Regions from separate parts of the Homo sapiens genome. Here region 1 is linked to region 2. The links come from fine-mapping of genetic effects on gene expression. Tissue or cell type: whole blood. Region 2 holds a variant in brackets; the other region holds the start of a gene. All regions are shown on one strand. Distances are between the middles of the regions.

What was found. PIP is the estimated chance that this variant, and not a neighbour inherited with it, causes the effect.
Region 1: it holds the start of ZNF23, and the variant in region 2 is fine-mapped to the expression of ZNF23 in whole blood (TOPMed, PIP above 0.99).

What each region holds. Positions count from the first base shown.
Region 1 is chr16:71,458,523-71,466,626 of GRCh38, forward strand. It overlaps ZNF23 (zinc finger protein 23), which reads right to left and starts at 3,725. Exons shown (of 5, transcript NM_001381984.1): 1 at 3,688-3,725. LOC124903709 (a long non-coding RNA gene) reads left to right here and starts at 3,790. Exons shown (of 2, transcript XR_007065105.1): 1 at 3,790-4,770; 2 at 5,411-8,104. RefSeq lists enhancers at 3,324-3,413, 3,684-3,843.
Region 2 is chr16:71,433,141-71,441,244 of GRCh38, forward strand. TLE7 (TLE family member 7) reads right to left here. Exons shown (of 10, transcript NM_001367365.2): 2 at 1-280. The coding sequence starts at 184. Among named protein-coding and RNA genes, the nearest start is that of TLE7, 4.9 kb to the right of the region's middle. The variant A/T (reference allele first, on the strand shown) is at 4,706.

The DNA.
Region 1 (8,104 bases), 25 kb after region 2:
AGCTCTAGCCTCCAATGTGACTGTATATGGAGACGGGGCCTGTCAGGAGGTTACAAGGATAAATGAGGTCCTAAGGGTGGGACTAAAGGTCCTAAGGTTAAATGAGGTCCAATAGGGGTGATGCCTTTACAAGAAGAAGGAGAGACCCAGAGCCCACGAAACCACTCACTCCCCGCCTCCCCCATGTGAGGACACAACGAGAGGGCTACTATCTATAAGCCAGGAAGGCAACCCTGGCAGGAGCCAAAATCAGCTGGCACCTTGATCCTGGACTTCCAGTCTCCAGGACTGTGAGAAATAAGTATGTTGGTGAAGCCACCCAGTCTATGGTATTTTGTTATGGCAGCCCAAGCAGACTAATACAGTTAGGCTGAGCAGTGTTTTACTTATTTTAATGTGGTTTCCTTTTATTTTCAAAGAACCAGCTTTTCTAGTTGAGCAACACTACTTTCTTCTATTTGTTTTAAATTCACTAATTCTGCTCTTAGTTTGTTCCTTCAGCTCTGTAAGGGGCAGTGTAAGCACCACTCCAATCCTCTTATCCCATCCTCAGTCCAGTTCTACAGAGGTTAGTCAGCTTTGTGAAGCTGCAAGCTACCAGAACCTTCACAAGGACCTACATCACCTATGCCTGGTTCCTGCCCTGGGGCTTCTCTGGTGTCCTATGTGGGACACCTGTGGACACCTGCTGGGCCCTGAAGTGCAGAGGCATTAACACCTGTGGGACCCCCTTGACCAATAGGGGAGAGAAACCAATGGATAAATGTTTTCCCCGTCGATCCCCCAGCGGGGCAGCCTTAAGACTCCAAGGCTCCTCAAACGCCCTGCAAGGCAGAGCCTGTTGAGGGCCGAGCATACCAATGCATCCTTGTACCAGTTCTCCCATCTCTGTTTCACTCCCCTTGTCTTTCACTCTGCCCCTGTGACCATATTCCTAAATAAATTCCTACATACAAATCTTTGTTCCACGTTCTGCTTTTGGGGAAGCTTAGACTACAAAAGGCTTTTTTCCCACCTTCTTGAGGTTGCATGACTTATTCATTTATTTTCATTCTTCCTATTTGGCAATTAAAGCCTATAAGGCCACAAATTTTCCTTGGGATACACTATTTGCCACATTCCAGAGGTTTTTATATTTCATGTTTTAATTACTGTTTTATAGTCAGTCAGCAATTCTGTTTTGTCTCTGACCTAGTAATTGCTTAGGATAGTTTACTGTTGCTAATTTCTTCTGTTTATAAGTTCTGGCTTTATTGCATGATGGTTATATAACCCAATCTACTAACTTCTACTTTACACATTTTTCAGGGTTTTTTTGTGACTCATGTCCATTTAAAAAAATATATTATCTGGTGTTTAAAGAGAAAACTTATTCTGTGATGGGAGAATATACAACTCCATTTTTAGATAATAAACCAACTCTACCAATTACATATGTAGTGTGATAGCTACCCCGCTCAGCTAGTCAAGGGTGTATACCTGCTGCCTGAACCTTGAAGACCGGGCAGTGAGTCAAGACCATGGGGCTCAGCAGAGGAGCAGGTGTTTGCAAGAACGTAAACATCCTAGAAAGTATATGAGAACCTACCAAGAAAAGTCTCATCGTTTAAATGCAGTAGGCAAACAGCCAGAAAATTCTCTAAAAAGTACTTAGAGACGAGGGGCATCACAGGTCTCTAAAGCTGTCCTGCTGCCATCCAGGAGTAAGTATGTAAGTCCTAATAAACTCATCTACTTGCCAAGCTGGACTCGTCCAAGGCATTCTTTGGTCTCTTGGCTCCCTCCCAAGGGGATAGTTTTTTTTTTTAAATACGATTCCAGGTTTTTTCCTGTTATGACATTATATAGATTTTCTACATAATCCTTGATTACTTTTACCTAATTAAACCAAGATGGCCAGTGAAGAACTAACTCTCACAAAACACTGAGCTCAGATGTGTCATGAGCAAATTCTTTCAATGTTTCGGAAATGAGTAATTCTAACACTATGTAAACCGTAGCAGAGCACAGCAAAGTAAGTTTCCCAATTCTTTTTATGGTGCCAGCACAATACTGATGCAAAAACTACAGACCAGTCTCATTTATGAATTCTAATGCAAAAATTCTATCAAGGAATAGACTCCAATAGTTCATTAAATACATCATGAGTAAGTAGGATTATCCCACGAAGATACTAATTAGTATATTTTTCACATTAATAAATCAAAGAAAGATAAACACACTGTCCATCTCAACAGATGCCAAAGATGTTTAACATAATTCAACATTTGTGCCTAATTTTAAAAACTTACACACTAGAGAAACTCTCATATGTAGGAAGTACGTACAAAAATATTATCAGCACATTTTAATAACAAAACACTGAAAACAACCCACATGTCCATTGAAAATACATCGATAAATTTTCATACAGTTTTTACAATGGAACATTACCCAGAAGCTACACACAGAATGAATTTGGAAACTTAACATTGAATTATGCGAGTCCCAGATGACTTATACACACAATGGTGCCATTTATATGAAGCTCAAAAAAAAAATTTAAGTACATTGCTTACAGATACATGCATATGTAATTATTTTTTAAAATAACAGGGCTACAATTAACACAAAAGTCAATATAACTGTTACCTCTAGGGGTTGGAGGCTGGGAGTTGGGTTGAGGAGGAGGAACACATTGATAAATTCAGCAGTACTGGCAATCTTCTCTTTCTTAATTGGGTGGTGTGTTCATGGATGTTTACTACTATATATGTAACATATAAATATATATTTTAAATAAATATATAAACCAGCAAGGATGGGGTGAAATTGAGGACCCAAAATGTAATACAAAGAACAGCCAATGTGCTTAACTATACTACAGTGAACATAACCACACTTAAGTGGTAGGAAAGAAAAGGGGTAAGCAACTTTGGAAAACAGTATTTTGACTAAATACCATAAGAGTAAAGACAAAAAGACCTGTATCCAAGTACTGTACTTTAGGTAGTAAATTTGCTTTTCATGGGGGTATGAATTAGCGATTCTGAGACTACTAAATATATTCTAAAACTGAGTGAATTCGTAATTACGTTGTAGAAGTCATTCCCAGGTCACTGTCAACCCTGAGCCGAGAGAAGCAGGGCTGAGTTACCTTTTGGGACTGACACTGCTCCAGGAGACAATGTCCTCCAAAAGCCGGGCTGCTTCTGCTGCCGGGTGACTGGGAGGGGCTCTGCGCTCCCACTCGGCCCTAATTCATGACCCTATGTCAGGAGCCTGGGAGCACACGGTCCATACTCGGGATGCACATAGGTTAATGTTCCTGCCAGACCTCAGCATGTCAAAAGACTTGTGGTATCACCTCGGGCCGCTTCACGCCCGCAAATATTCCATCTTTTAGCTGCACCGACACATCTTCCCCCGTCGACCAAGTGCTAAATGCTCAGGGCCTCGTGGCTGGGACAGCAACGTGCGTTTCCCCTTCCAATGGGCGCAAGCTATTGAGCCACAAAGACCAAAGCTGGAGTCGAGGAGCGCGGAAGAGCACCCCGGGCCGCCGCCCTGCTCCCTCTCCCAGCCTGGGCCTCCTGGCAGCGTAGGCCACGGGAGACCCTGCAGCACCCAGGGTGGGAGTGCGTCTCAACCGGACCCAGAGCCTGGGGGACAGGGCACGGCACACAGCGCCCGGAGCCCTGCACTCACCTCCGTAGCGGACTGCTCCCCGGCGCTGCCGGAAGTGCGTCACCAGGCGGCCGGGCCTCTCTAGGAGCAAGGTCGCTGCGCCTCGGTGGTGGTCACGCCCGGCCAGCTGTGGCCGCATCCCTGTCGGCTAGCTCGGGTCTGGCCCACGGTGACTGTTACCCCTGGGGAATGGGGCAGGTAAGAATCAGAGCCAAGCGGGGACCCAGCCCGGGGAGGTGAAGCTGCAGGTGCAGCCACGTGTGGGAGTCTTGGAAATGGACCAGTGGATGGCGCGCTGTCACACCCAATGCCCCCTTTTTCTAACAAATAGTTTGTAATGTCCATCTTATTCTCCTGACCTGATATTCATATATAATGGCCTAGAAAATCATACATAACATACACACCTACATATTAAAAACTAATGTTATGCCTTAAGTGTAATGAAAGAGAAAAAAAAGAGGACCGTCATCTGTCGTTTAAAAACACATACTTCAATGTGTTTGGTCTTGGCTGCTGCAGGAGACCTAATAAGGTGGTCGCCTTTACACATAGACGTTGTCTGAGTGCCACAGCCACAAAGCTGTGACTTACATTGTTGCAAAAGTCACAAAATTATGATCCAAAATGGCAAACATGTTTTCGTGAAGTTCTGAATGAAACACAGGACAATCGTCTCTTGATTATACAATAATTACATTCCTGGAAGATCAGTGTATGTTAAAACTGTGCAAAAATACATGTTTATCCAGAAAACAGGTTTAGATTCAGATAATTTAGAAATAGAATTTTCACCTACCTGAATGTTCAGCAAGACATTTGAAAGTGTGAACATTTTTTCAGTGGGCAGGACTGTCCTGTACATTGCAGGATCCTGGCTCCTATCCACAACGCTAGTAGCAATGTTACCACTGACACCAAATATAACAAAATACCTACCATAAAATTCCAAAATGAGCCCTGGGGGAAGGGAGACAGTACTAAATGCCACTGGATTGGACGACCCTTAAAATCCCCACCCCCTCACACACCCCCTAACCCTGGTAATGTGGGCTTTTCTTCCTTCCAGCTCTGATCCATCCAACGCTGCTGCACTGGAGACTGGTATTTGGCTCCCACTTGCCTCTGTGGCTTCTTATCACTCCCATTCATTCCCTGACTCTACCTCAGCCCTACATGCTAAAAATGCTGTTCTCTAAATCTAGAATGCCCTTCCCTTCCCATTCCTACCCTCCATCTTGACTGTTACTGGAAGTGTGAGCTCAAATCCCATTTTGCATGGGAAGCAAGCCTTCCCTCATCACCCAGAATAAGGCAGGACACTCATTTATGTGCCATCACAGCACTGTGTACTTACTTAATGGTGATAGTTTATTTATATGTCTGTCTTCTCTGGTGGCTGCAGGGAACAGACACTGTATCTATCTTGTTCAACATCATCATCCTCAGCTAGAGAATAACTGGCAGAAAGAAGGAGAGCAATAAACATTTGTTGTTGACAATGGTCCAAAGGCTCCAGCCCTAACTCTTAGGCAGAAGCCTACTTTGTGTGTCCCCAAGGGTAGGATATGTCTTATGCCTTGGACCTTGACAGTGACCATGGCCAGGTGCCCTTCTCTGCCTTGCCCTGACCCTGATCTTCACTGTTTTCCAAAATGAGTTCATTAAGAAAATGATTGGGCAGAGTAATAGCTGGGGATTACGTTGCTCTTGTCAATAAGTTCTGGTTTTCACTTCTTTCTAGGGTCAGAAATCAGGAGTGAGGACTTGTTGAAAGAAATAGGAAGGAATCAGATCACATAAATGCTGGCCCCAAATGTTTGCATCATAAACCCATTGCCTAATTTTACAGTTGAGAAAATAAAGCTCTCTAAATAACCACAAAGCTCCTACTCCTACTTCAGACATATCAGAAAAATGAGATAATAATGCACAAACCAAGTTTCAAAAGCTCTATGGTAGGTCTGGAGAGATGGAGATCAGTTCTTGTCTGTCAGCCCCTGTTCTTCCATTCTTATAAGGTTACAGAATCTCTAGCAAGGGACATGACAGCTCAGGGAAAAAGCACACATTTCCCAGCATTCTTTAAGGCAAAGTGTGTCCATGTGACCAACTTCTGGCAAACAGGCTGTAAGAAAATGTGATGCTGTGTCCTTAAAGACAAGGGACATGCCCTCCCTGCCCCCAAACCTTCATCGACCAGGTGGAATGTTGACAAGGGAGAGCATCAGAGCATCTTGGACCATGTGAATAAGGGTGTGGCTGCTGGGGATGACAGAGCAACTAAAAGGAGGAGGCACAGAGCTGCTATATCAGCCCCAGATGGCTTACTTTCTGATGATACATGAGAGAGAAATAAACTTTCATCAAATTTAAACCACATTTATTTGGGTTCTTCAAATTAATTTCCAAGCCCATAGCCTAACTAATACCCCTAGAAATGAGGAAGGATGGAAAAATCACACAACACAAGAGTTAAAAAATTAAGCTGGCTCTTCGACTACAGCATTCTAGAAGTTCATTTCCATGCTGGGCCTGCAGCCATGTAGTGTCAGTTTCCTCCTGCTCAGCTCTAAGGCTTCTTCTCCTGCACCCTTTGTCCCTGCAGCCCCAAGACCTCTCTAAAGCCCTTCCTCTCTGACCACCAGGGAAAGCTGACAATCTTCTCATGTTAAAAAAAATCTTTTTTGTTGGCCAGGCGTGGTGGCTCACACCTGGAATCCCAGCACTTTGGCAGGCTGAGGTGGGGGGAGTTACCTGAGGTTGGGAGTTCGAGACCAGCCTGACTAACGTGGAGAAACTCTGTCTCTACTAAAAATACAAAATTAGCCAGGCGTGGTGGCGCATGCCTGTATTCCCAGCTACTCGGGAGGCTGAGGCCAGAGAATCGCCTGAACCCAGGAGGCGGAAGTTGTGGTGGGCTGAGATAGCGCCATTGCACTCCAGCCTGGGCGACAAGAGCGAAACTCCGTCTCAAAAAAGAAAAAATATTTCTTGTTGTTTCCAGTTTTAATAGGACAGAGTAAAGATGGCTTTGCCTGCTTCTTCTCATGAAAACTGTGGCAAAACAACTGTCTGGTTGATGTTCATTCCAGGAGTTCAAGGCTGTTTTCAGGCTACAAAATTTTTACCTACTTATTGATGTTGTGAGTTCTGTGAATAAATCATTTAATCTATGTGGAGAAATGTACTAGGGTAGGGCAAGGTCTTATTCTCAAAGCAACCAAACATATATAGGAATAAGTTTACTAATAAATGTATAAGACATATATCAAGAAAATTTTAAACATTTGGGGACTAAACCAATGAAAACCCCTTGTGTAAATGGAAAGGCACAGGTAATCCTTCAGTAGGAAGGGTAGTTTTCTTTATTTAATCCATAAGTCCAACGTCATACCAAATAAAACCCCTATAGGATTTGTTTTAAAACTTGTGAAAATGATTCTAAAATTTACGCAGAAAAAATGTTAGAAGTGACTGGACAGTGCCTCATGCCTATAATCCCAGCACTTTGAGAGGCCAACGTGGACAGATCACCTGAGCTCAGGAGTTCAAGACCAGCCTGGCCAACATGGTGAAACCTTGTCTTTACTAAAAATACAAAAATTAGCCCAGCGTGGTGGCGCACACCTGTAATCCCAGCTACTGGGGAAGCTGGGGCAGGAGAATTGCTTGAACCCGAGAGGCGGAGGTTGTAGTGAGCCAAGATCATGCCACTGCACTCCAGCCTGGGTGACAGAATGAGACTCCGTCAAAAAAAAAAAGAGAGAGAGAAGGAGAGAGAAAGAAAGAAAGAGAGAGAGAAAGAGAAAGAAAGAGAAAGAAAGGAAGGAAGGAAGGAAAGAAAATGTTAGATGCTTATAAGGTACTACTGAAACTTAAGAAAGCACAAGTATTGAAAGTCAAAGAATGGAAAATAGATATATCAGACAAGTATTAAGGGAAAGGGAAAATGGCACAGCTATATTAATATCTCACAACAATAAGTTTAAGACAATAAATATTACGCAGAATTCAGTTGAGGGCAATGTAGCAAATAATATAAACTAGAATCTAGAAATTTAGAATAAGATATAATATTCGACATCATTTTAAATACTTAACTCACAGGAAAGTGTACCCACGTACCAAAACCAAACAAGAAACTAAAACCAGAGGCATTGGTTTGGACTGAGGACCTCAGCTGATGCTTTGGCCAACAGGGGTGGGAATGGTGAAGAGTTGTAAGTCTTGATATCTGAGAAAGCAGAATTATAATATGCAGGAGGCATATTACAGGAACAAGGAATAGGAACAGAGACTTTTCTCACACACATACACTCATCCAATCATGAAAGGATAAATTTTTTAAAAATCTCATGAACAAAGAGAGATAACAAAGAATCTTATGGTCCTTGCCTAAGCTTTGAAGTGGTAGTAGAAATGTCTTCTAAAAATT
Region 2 (8,104 bases):
GGCTGTGCTGTATTGGGGGGCCCGGGGGCTGCCAGGGCACTCCCAACAGACTGCCCAGTTGCTGCTGCACTTGTGGCTCAGGCTGAGAGGAAACGCCAGAGCTTTCCAGCACATCCCTCCTCTCCTCTGGCTCACCATAAGCCCCGAACATTCTGAGCGATGCCTCTTCCTTCTCTCCACTCATGTTCTTAGATCAGTGAGGTGTCTGGACCACCCGGTTCTAGGACTTGACAAATAGACCCGCCAAACAGACACCAGGTTCCCAGTGTGTCCTGATCCCCTGTAAGGTGAAAAAAAAGAGACGCAGCTATGCACATGTGCTCTGTAGGGTCTCTTTAGAAGGGGCAGAGAATGTCTCCTTTGGTGAAAAGATTCAAAAGAGTGGTTGCCAACTAGCTTTTCACATTAGGTGTTGGCGGCAATGATGTCAAGGGTGAAAGCGTCACACAAGCACTTTGAGATGTTAGTGCCAGGCATTGTATTTTTCCTTTTATGCAAATGGACTGTATTTCTGGTCATTTAAAAATCAAACTCACCTGCCGGGCACGGTGGCTCACACCTGTAATCCCAGCTCTTTGGGAGGCTGAGGCAGGCAGATCACAAGGCCAGGAGTTTGAGACCAGCCTGGCCAACATTGTGAAACCCAATCTCTACTGAAAATACAAAAATTAGCCGGGCATGATGGCACGTGCCTGTAATCCCAGCTACTTGGGAGGCTGAGGCAGGAGAATCACTTGAACAGAGGAGGCGGAGGTTGCACTGAGGTGAGATCGTGCCACTGCACTCCAGCCTGGTCAACAAAGCAAGACTCCGTCTCAAAAAAATCAAACTCACCTTTTCATCTGGCTGTACATATTTCAAATGAGGGCTCATACCTAAGCTAAATAAAATATAAGGCAACAGGAAATTCCACATACAACATGTGTCTCTCACCTAGAGGGGTTGGAGGAAACCCCAAGAGATCATAAGAATATAAGGTGTCCTACTTGGACGGGGCAAGGCTATCTAATGATGAAGTTGGCTTGGAGGTGATTACTATTTCCTACCCTATGGGATAATTCTGAGAACTGGATGCAATCACTCAAGTAGAATACTCGGCATTGTACAAGGCTAGTGGTAAACAATCAATAGAAGATAGTACACTTATTTGAGGCCTGTGTCAGGGACCAGAGCTTTGAGGATTTAAGTAGACCAAATACCCTCCTTCAGGAAGGCTCCTGCCCAACAGCCAGCCCTAGGAAGGCCCTGGAGAGACCCAGGGTTCTATGAACAGAGCACATCAGGAGCCTTAGGGATGGGACAAGACAATGCGCGGGGAAAGGATCTTCAAGTGAGAACCACCAGCTTGACAGCCAGGCTCAATAGCTGGCTCTCAAACACCCACGAACTCTATGGCAAGCACCAGGGTGGGGGCCCAGGCTACCTGTCCTTGGGAAGATGCAGGGGAGAGTTTTACTTCTCTGTGTGTTTGGCCCTGAACTAAATGCTTTACATAGCTGATCTCATTTTATGCTCACAACTATATGGGCCCCATTTTATAGATTTTTTAAAACTGGAGCTTGGAGAGCACTGGGTCCATGATCAAACTGCTAGAAAACACAGAGAGGAGGTTCGAACCCTGTCCTGCATAGCTCTAAACCACCTCCTTTCCTACCTCCCTATTAGAAGGAAGGCAATATCCGCCATTATTACCGATGCAGTGACCTTTAACCTAGTACTTCCACTTCTAAAAATGTACCCTAGAGGTGCACTTGGATATATGCAAAATAATAGATGTACAAGCTGGAGAACAGCAGCACTGTTTGTGACAATATTGGGACATTGTTTGTTATAACCTTTGCAGAGCCAAGATTGCACCACTGCATTCCAGCCTGGGATTTGGCAGATGTCTGGCCAATGCCCAAATGGCCATGGGAGGAGACTGGTGCAATAAGTTAGAGTATAGCCATATGGTAGAATGGTATGCAGCTATTAAAAATAACAAGGACATGGCTAGGCACGGTAGCTCACGCCTGTAATCCCAGCACTTTGGGAGGCCGAGGCAGGCAGATCATGAGGTCAGGAGTTCAAGACCAGCCTGACCAACAAGGTGAAACGCTGTCTCTACTAAAACTACAAAAATTAGCCAGGTGTGGTGCCACGCACCTGTAATCCCAGCTACTCAGGAGGCTGAGGCAGGAGAATTGCTTGAACCCGGGAGGCGGAGGTTGCAGTGAGCCGAGATCGTGCCAATGCACTCCAGCCTGGGTGGCAGAGTGAAACTCTGTCTCAAAATAAATAAATAAAATAAAATAAAATAAAATAACAAGGATGCATACATTGATATGGAATATTCCAAGGTGTATTAATAAGTGGGTGAAAACTGCAATGTTCAGAAAAATGTGCCAAATATGCAACTTTTATGTAAAAGAAAAATGGAAATTAAATTTATCTTTGTATATAAGAAATTAGAAACAGTGGTTGCCTTTCAGAGATGGAAATTGGCAAATAGGAAAGAAGAATGGGAGGGAGATTTGTCACTGCATAACTCAGTACCTTTTCTGCATATTTCTGGACATTCAAACCTATGTTAAAAATGGTTGGATCTGGAGCCTTTCTCATCTCACCCCAAATGTTGATCCTCCTGATTCTTAGTTGTTTAAATAATTTAACGCACTCTCCTTGACTTGCGTCAGGCTCCTCTAATTGGAGACACCAGGGCTGAGCTTGGAGCATGGAAACTCCCAGCAGAGACCACCACTGCTCAGACCCCCTTTTGGGGCCTACATAAAGTTTAAAAGCAGTGAAACTATTTAACCAGGGCTTCAGCCTCCAAATTTGCCAGAATTTCACCCTAAGAATAAAACAAGGCTTTCTAGAAAGAGCAGGAGGAAGAGTCAGTATCACCGATTCCCTTCTCTTCTCTCTCCCAGAGCTAGGAACACAGAGCTCCCCACCCTCTTACCAGACAACTCTCTTTCCAAAGCCCCCAGAATGCTGGTCTGGGGGCTCACTCAAACCCCCCATGGCAGGAAACTCACCTCTGAAGGAAGAAGGTCAAACCCTAGACATGGGAAGTCAGCCAAGCTAAGACCCAGCCAGGCATAAGAATCCCCACATCCTCTCCCAGCCCCAGACCCTCCCTTCCACACCCAGGTGCTGCCCCTATCCTGCGGTGCTGCTGCTTTTAAACGTGAGCCTAATGGGTTGTCAAGCCCTGGGTCAGAATCTCGGTCAGGTATCCTGGCCCTGAATGGCTGTCAATCAATCACCAGACGTGGCCACACAACCAACCCCGCTGAGCCAAGCTGCTGCTGGCGGTATCTCAGGTTAACCTATGAGCCCTTGAATTGGGGGTAGTAAGACAGGGACCCACCAAGTATTTTCATGGTAGGAGTTAAGATAGAGGGAGACATTTTTAGGGGGATACGTCTTTGGACTGGATTCAAACCACCCTACAAGAGCCAGCGTCTGTGCAAAGATGGGGAGTTGAGTTGAGCTGTTCGCCAGAGCCAAGAGTCAGAGTCTCAGCTCCAGGTGAATCTCCTTTGCTTGAGAAGGCTGATCTTGGCCTGAAGCCAACAGTGGGTGACTGTGGGAGGGACACGGGGCCGCTTTCCTCTTCCTCCCCTGCTCTGGCCTGAGCGTGCCTGGCTCTGGGCCTCTAATCTTTTACCAGTGTCCCTGAAAGCAAAGACTGAGGAACACTCTCTTTTTCGTGGCTGTCTCAGCCAGTGGTTCTTACATTGGAGCACACATCAAATCCCCTGGAGGCCTTGTTAAAAGTGTGGTGGACCCACTCCCAGAAATTCTGATTCAGGGCTGGGCACAGTGGCTCACACCTGTAATCCCAGCACTTGGGGAGGCCGAGGCGGGCAGATCACTTGAAGTCAGGACCAGCCTGTCCAACATGGTGAAACCCTGTCTATACTAAACATACAAAAATTAACTGGGTATGGTGGTGCACGCCTGTAATCCCAGCACTTTGGGAAGCCGAGGCAGGTGGATCACCTGAGGTCAGATGTTTGAGACCAGCCTGGCCAACATGGTGAAACCCTGTCTCTACTAGAAATACAAAAATTAGCTGGGCATGATGGTGCGTGCCTGTAATTCCAGCTACTTGGGAGGCTGAGGCACAAGAATTACTTGAATCTGGGAGGTGGAGGCTGCAGTGAGCTGAGATTGCGCCACTGCATTCCAGCCTGAGTGACAGAGTGAGACTCTGTCTCAGAAAAAAAAAAAAAAAAAGGAAAAGAAAGGGAGGGAGGAGAGAGAGAGAGAAGAGAAGAAAAGAAAGGAAGGAAGAAACAAAGAGGAAGGAAGGAAGAAAGGAAAGAGAAGGGAGAAGAGAAGAGAAGAGAAGAGAAAGAAATTTTGATTCAGTAGGCATGGGTGGGGCCCAAGACTGTGTTTCTAACAAGTTCCCGATGTGTTGGTGATGCTGTTGCTGCTGCCACCAGGCTGGGGACCAGCATCTGAGAGGCACTGGGGGAACCCTTCGGTCTGAGGATCCCTTTCTGGAAGGAGAGGAAGGGGTGATGAAGCTGGACCCCTTTCCTCCTTCACTCCTTGCTTTTGCCTCCATTCCCTGATCACCCCCTTTCCCCCACTGAATCTACTGTCTCCTCTCCTCTGGCTTCTTTCTCATTCATTGGCTCCCTTCTTTTGAAGAAATCCTGAGATGGCTGCTACTTACAGAGGAATCTTTTACCACCCCTGACCTCCA[A/T]TCTCCAAAGCTCTCTGTCTCTCCCTTCTCCCCTCTGCCTCACTTACACACCCCTTGTCCCCAGAACGTCTGTGGCTGCCTATTGCCTTCAAGATAATGTTGCTGGAAAGAGAGGGTCCTGATCCAGACCCCAAGAGTCTTGGATCTCACGCAGGAAGGAATTAAAGGCAGGTCACAGAGTGCAGCGTGAAAGAAACAAGTTTATTAGAAACTACTCTGTTGTAGAGTGGAGCATCCTCAGAAAGCAGGAGGAGGAACACACCATCTTCTGTTAGTGTCTCTACTTATAAGAAACCATAAGGAGTGGCCGGACACAGTGGTTCACAGCCGTAATCCCAGCACTTTGGGAGGCCGAGGCGGGTGGATCACCTGAGGTCACGAGTTCGAGACCAGCCTGGCCAACGTGGTGAAACCCGTCTCTAATAAAAATACAAAATTAGCCAGGCATGGTGGCATGCCTATCATCCCAGCTACTCAGGAGGCTGAGGCAGGAGAATCACCTGAGCCCAGGAGGCAGAGCCCTGAAGCAAGATTGCGCCACTCCACTCCAGCCTGGGTGACAGAACGAGACTCCATCTCAAAAAAAAAAAAAAAAAGAGAGAGAGAAAGAAAGAAAAGAGAAAAAAGAAAAGAAAAGAAACCATAAGGAGCTGTAATTAAACTTGGAATGTGCAGATTGCTTGCTAAAGGTAAGGGATATTGGTGGGCGGCTGTAATCCCAGCTATTCGGGAGGCTGAGGCAGGGAGAATCACTTGAACCCAGGAGACAGAGGTTGCCGTGAGCCAAGATCGCACCACTGCACTCCAGCCTGGGTATCAGGGTGAGACTCCATCTCAAAAAAAAAAAAAAAAAAAGCGAAAATAGGGACAGCCCGAGGAGTTGCAAGAGTCAAAGAGAGCCGTGGTTCTTATACCCAGAGGCAAGTTAAAGGCAATTGGTGCTTTAGAAATAACCAGATGGACAGAGAGTGCATCCTGTTGTCCCTCAGCCGTGGATAGAGGGACCCAGCTTGAGCTCAGGATGTGCCATAGTTGAAATTCAGGTGTATGTGGGCAACAGGTGGGACCCCCTTGACCAAAACTGTCACAACCAGGGTAAAGTTGATTCCACGCAGAGAAAGCAAACAGGGCTAATGATAGTAATCAAACACACCTGTGCCCCTTCCCCACCACCTTTCCATCCCCGTGGCCAGTTGGCACAGTCTTACTGACCCCCGCTGTGCTGGGCACTGAGGAGATGAGGCTGGGCCCACAGAGCTGACCATGACCCGTGTGGAATTCCCTCTTTGAAGGGAAACTGACCACTGAACTGGAGATTACAAGTCAGAGTGGAAAGTGACATGGTGGAGGAGGAGGGCTGTAAAGGGGTGGGGTGTGTGAGCCCAGAGAAAGTCACATAACCTGGAAGTGAAAGGTGATAGGGAGTACGTAAGGTCAGAAGGATGGAAGGACTCAGCGGGGGAAGCAGGGTAGCAGAGAGCATAGGAGAATGTTCCAGACAGACAGAAGGGCAGAGGCAAAGGAATGGATTTTAGCAATTGGGAGAATTTTCTAGGGGCTGGAGCACAGAGGGTGTGTGTTTTGGAGGCAGGGAGGGCAGGAATGTGTCCTCCTTTCCAGAGAGAGTTGGAAGGCATTTGGGGGTGGTTCTGAGCTGGGGGAGACATAATCAGAGTTGGGTTTCAGAAGGAGGACTGTAGCTGTTCTTCTAGGGATAGAATGGGGGGAAGGGACAAGACTGGAGGCTGGGAACCAGCTAAAAGAAAAAGACACTCCACATCACCAGTCATCCGGGAAATGGAAATCAAAGCCACATGTAATAGATCACTTCACACACCCTAGGATGGCTATGACAGCCACCAAAACCACAGAAAATAACAAATGTTGGTGAGAATGTGGGGAAATTGGAACCCTCCTACGTTGCTGATAGGAATACCACGGAGCAGCCACTGTGAAAAACAGTTTGGCAACTCCTCAGAGTTAACATGTGACCCAGCAGCTCCACTCTTAAGTATATGCCCCCAAAAATGGAAAACAGGGACTTAAACATTTCTTGGACACCAGTGTTCACAGAAGCATTATTCACAGTAGCCAAAAAGAAACAACCCAAGTGTCCCCCAATTGAAGAATGGATCAAAATGTGGTGTAAATATACAACGGAGCATTACTCAGCCATAAAAAGAATGAAGCTGTGATACACACTACCACATGGGTGAACCTGAAAATATTATGCTATGTGAAATAAGCCAGACACAAAAGGCCAATACTGCATGATTCTATCTACATGAAATATCCACAAAAGGCCAGTCCTTAGAGACAGAAAGCAGGTTAGTGGTTGCCAGGGACTGGCAAAGGGGAATGGGACGCCACTTCTTAATGGGTCTGGAATTCCTTTTGGGATGACAAAAAAGTTCTGAAACTAGAGGGTGGTGATGGTTGTGCAACATTGTGATGTACCTAATGCCACGGAATTGTACACTTTAAAATAGCTAAGATGAGCCGGGCACCTGTAATCCCAGCTACTCGGGAGGCTGAGGCAGGAGAATCACTTGAACCCAGGAGGCAGAGGTTGCAGTGAACCGAAATCGGGCGACTGCACTCCAGCCTGGGCAACAGAGCGAGACTGCGCCTCAAAAGAAAAAAAAAATAGCTAAAGTGTTAAATTTCATGTTATGTGTATTTTACAAGAAAGACCCAAAACCAGACATGGGGTCATGAGTTAGGGGTCCTGCAAATCCCAACAGCATTTTTCCTTCTTCCCCTTTAGCCAGCAAACTCCAGGCACTTTAGCTGGTGGTTTTCTTCCCTTTGCTCCCCTAGAAGAGCCACACAGCTGCAGGTGTCCCAGCCCGGAGGCTATGGGTAGCTGTCGTCAAATGGCTGGTGGGACCCCAACACCTAGTGGGCCAACACAAAGGTCAGAGATGGGGTCATCTGGGCAGAACTGCGACTGTGAGCCTCCAGATCTTTATTTGAGGGCTGACGCGCCCTCTGGCGGGCACCTGGAAGGGACAATGCACGGCCAGGCCCCTCCTCCCACCTCCTCCCTCACTGTCACGGGGAGCCCCAACTCCCCATTCCTTGCCAAGGCCCCTTCCTCCTAGCATGGTGACGCTGCCCTTCCCACAAGCACGGTGGCGTCTCCCGCATCGTACATTGCTCTTCCCACCCACCTCGCGTCCCGTCCCTGCCATGGGAAGTTTGCATTCCCAAGTCCTGCATTCCGATTTCTGTCCTGGGTCCATCTCTTATCTCCCCAGGGACCTGTTACCAAAGCCCCCTGCTCAGTCACTCTCAGGAGCCCGCCGGCAACTTTCCGCCTCCCCCACAGTCCTCGACAGCAACTCTACAATGTGGGCCTCGCAGCAGGATTTCACTCGATTTATTTTGTAAGAAAAG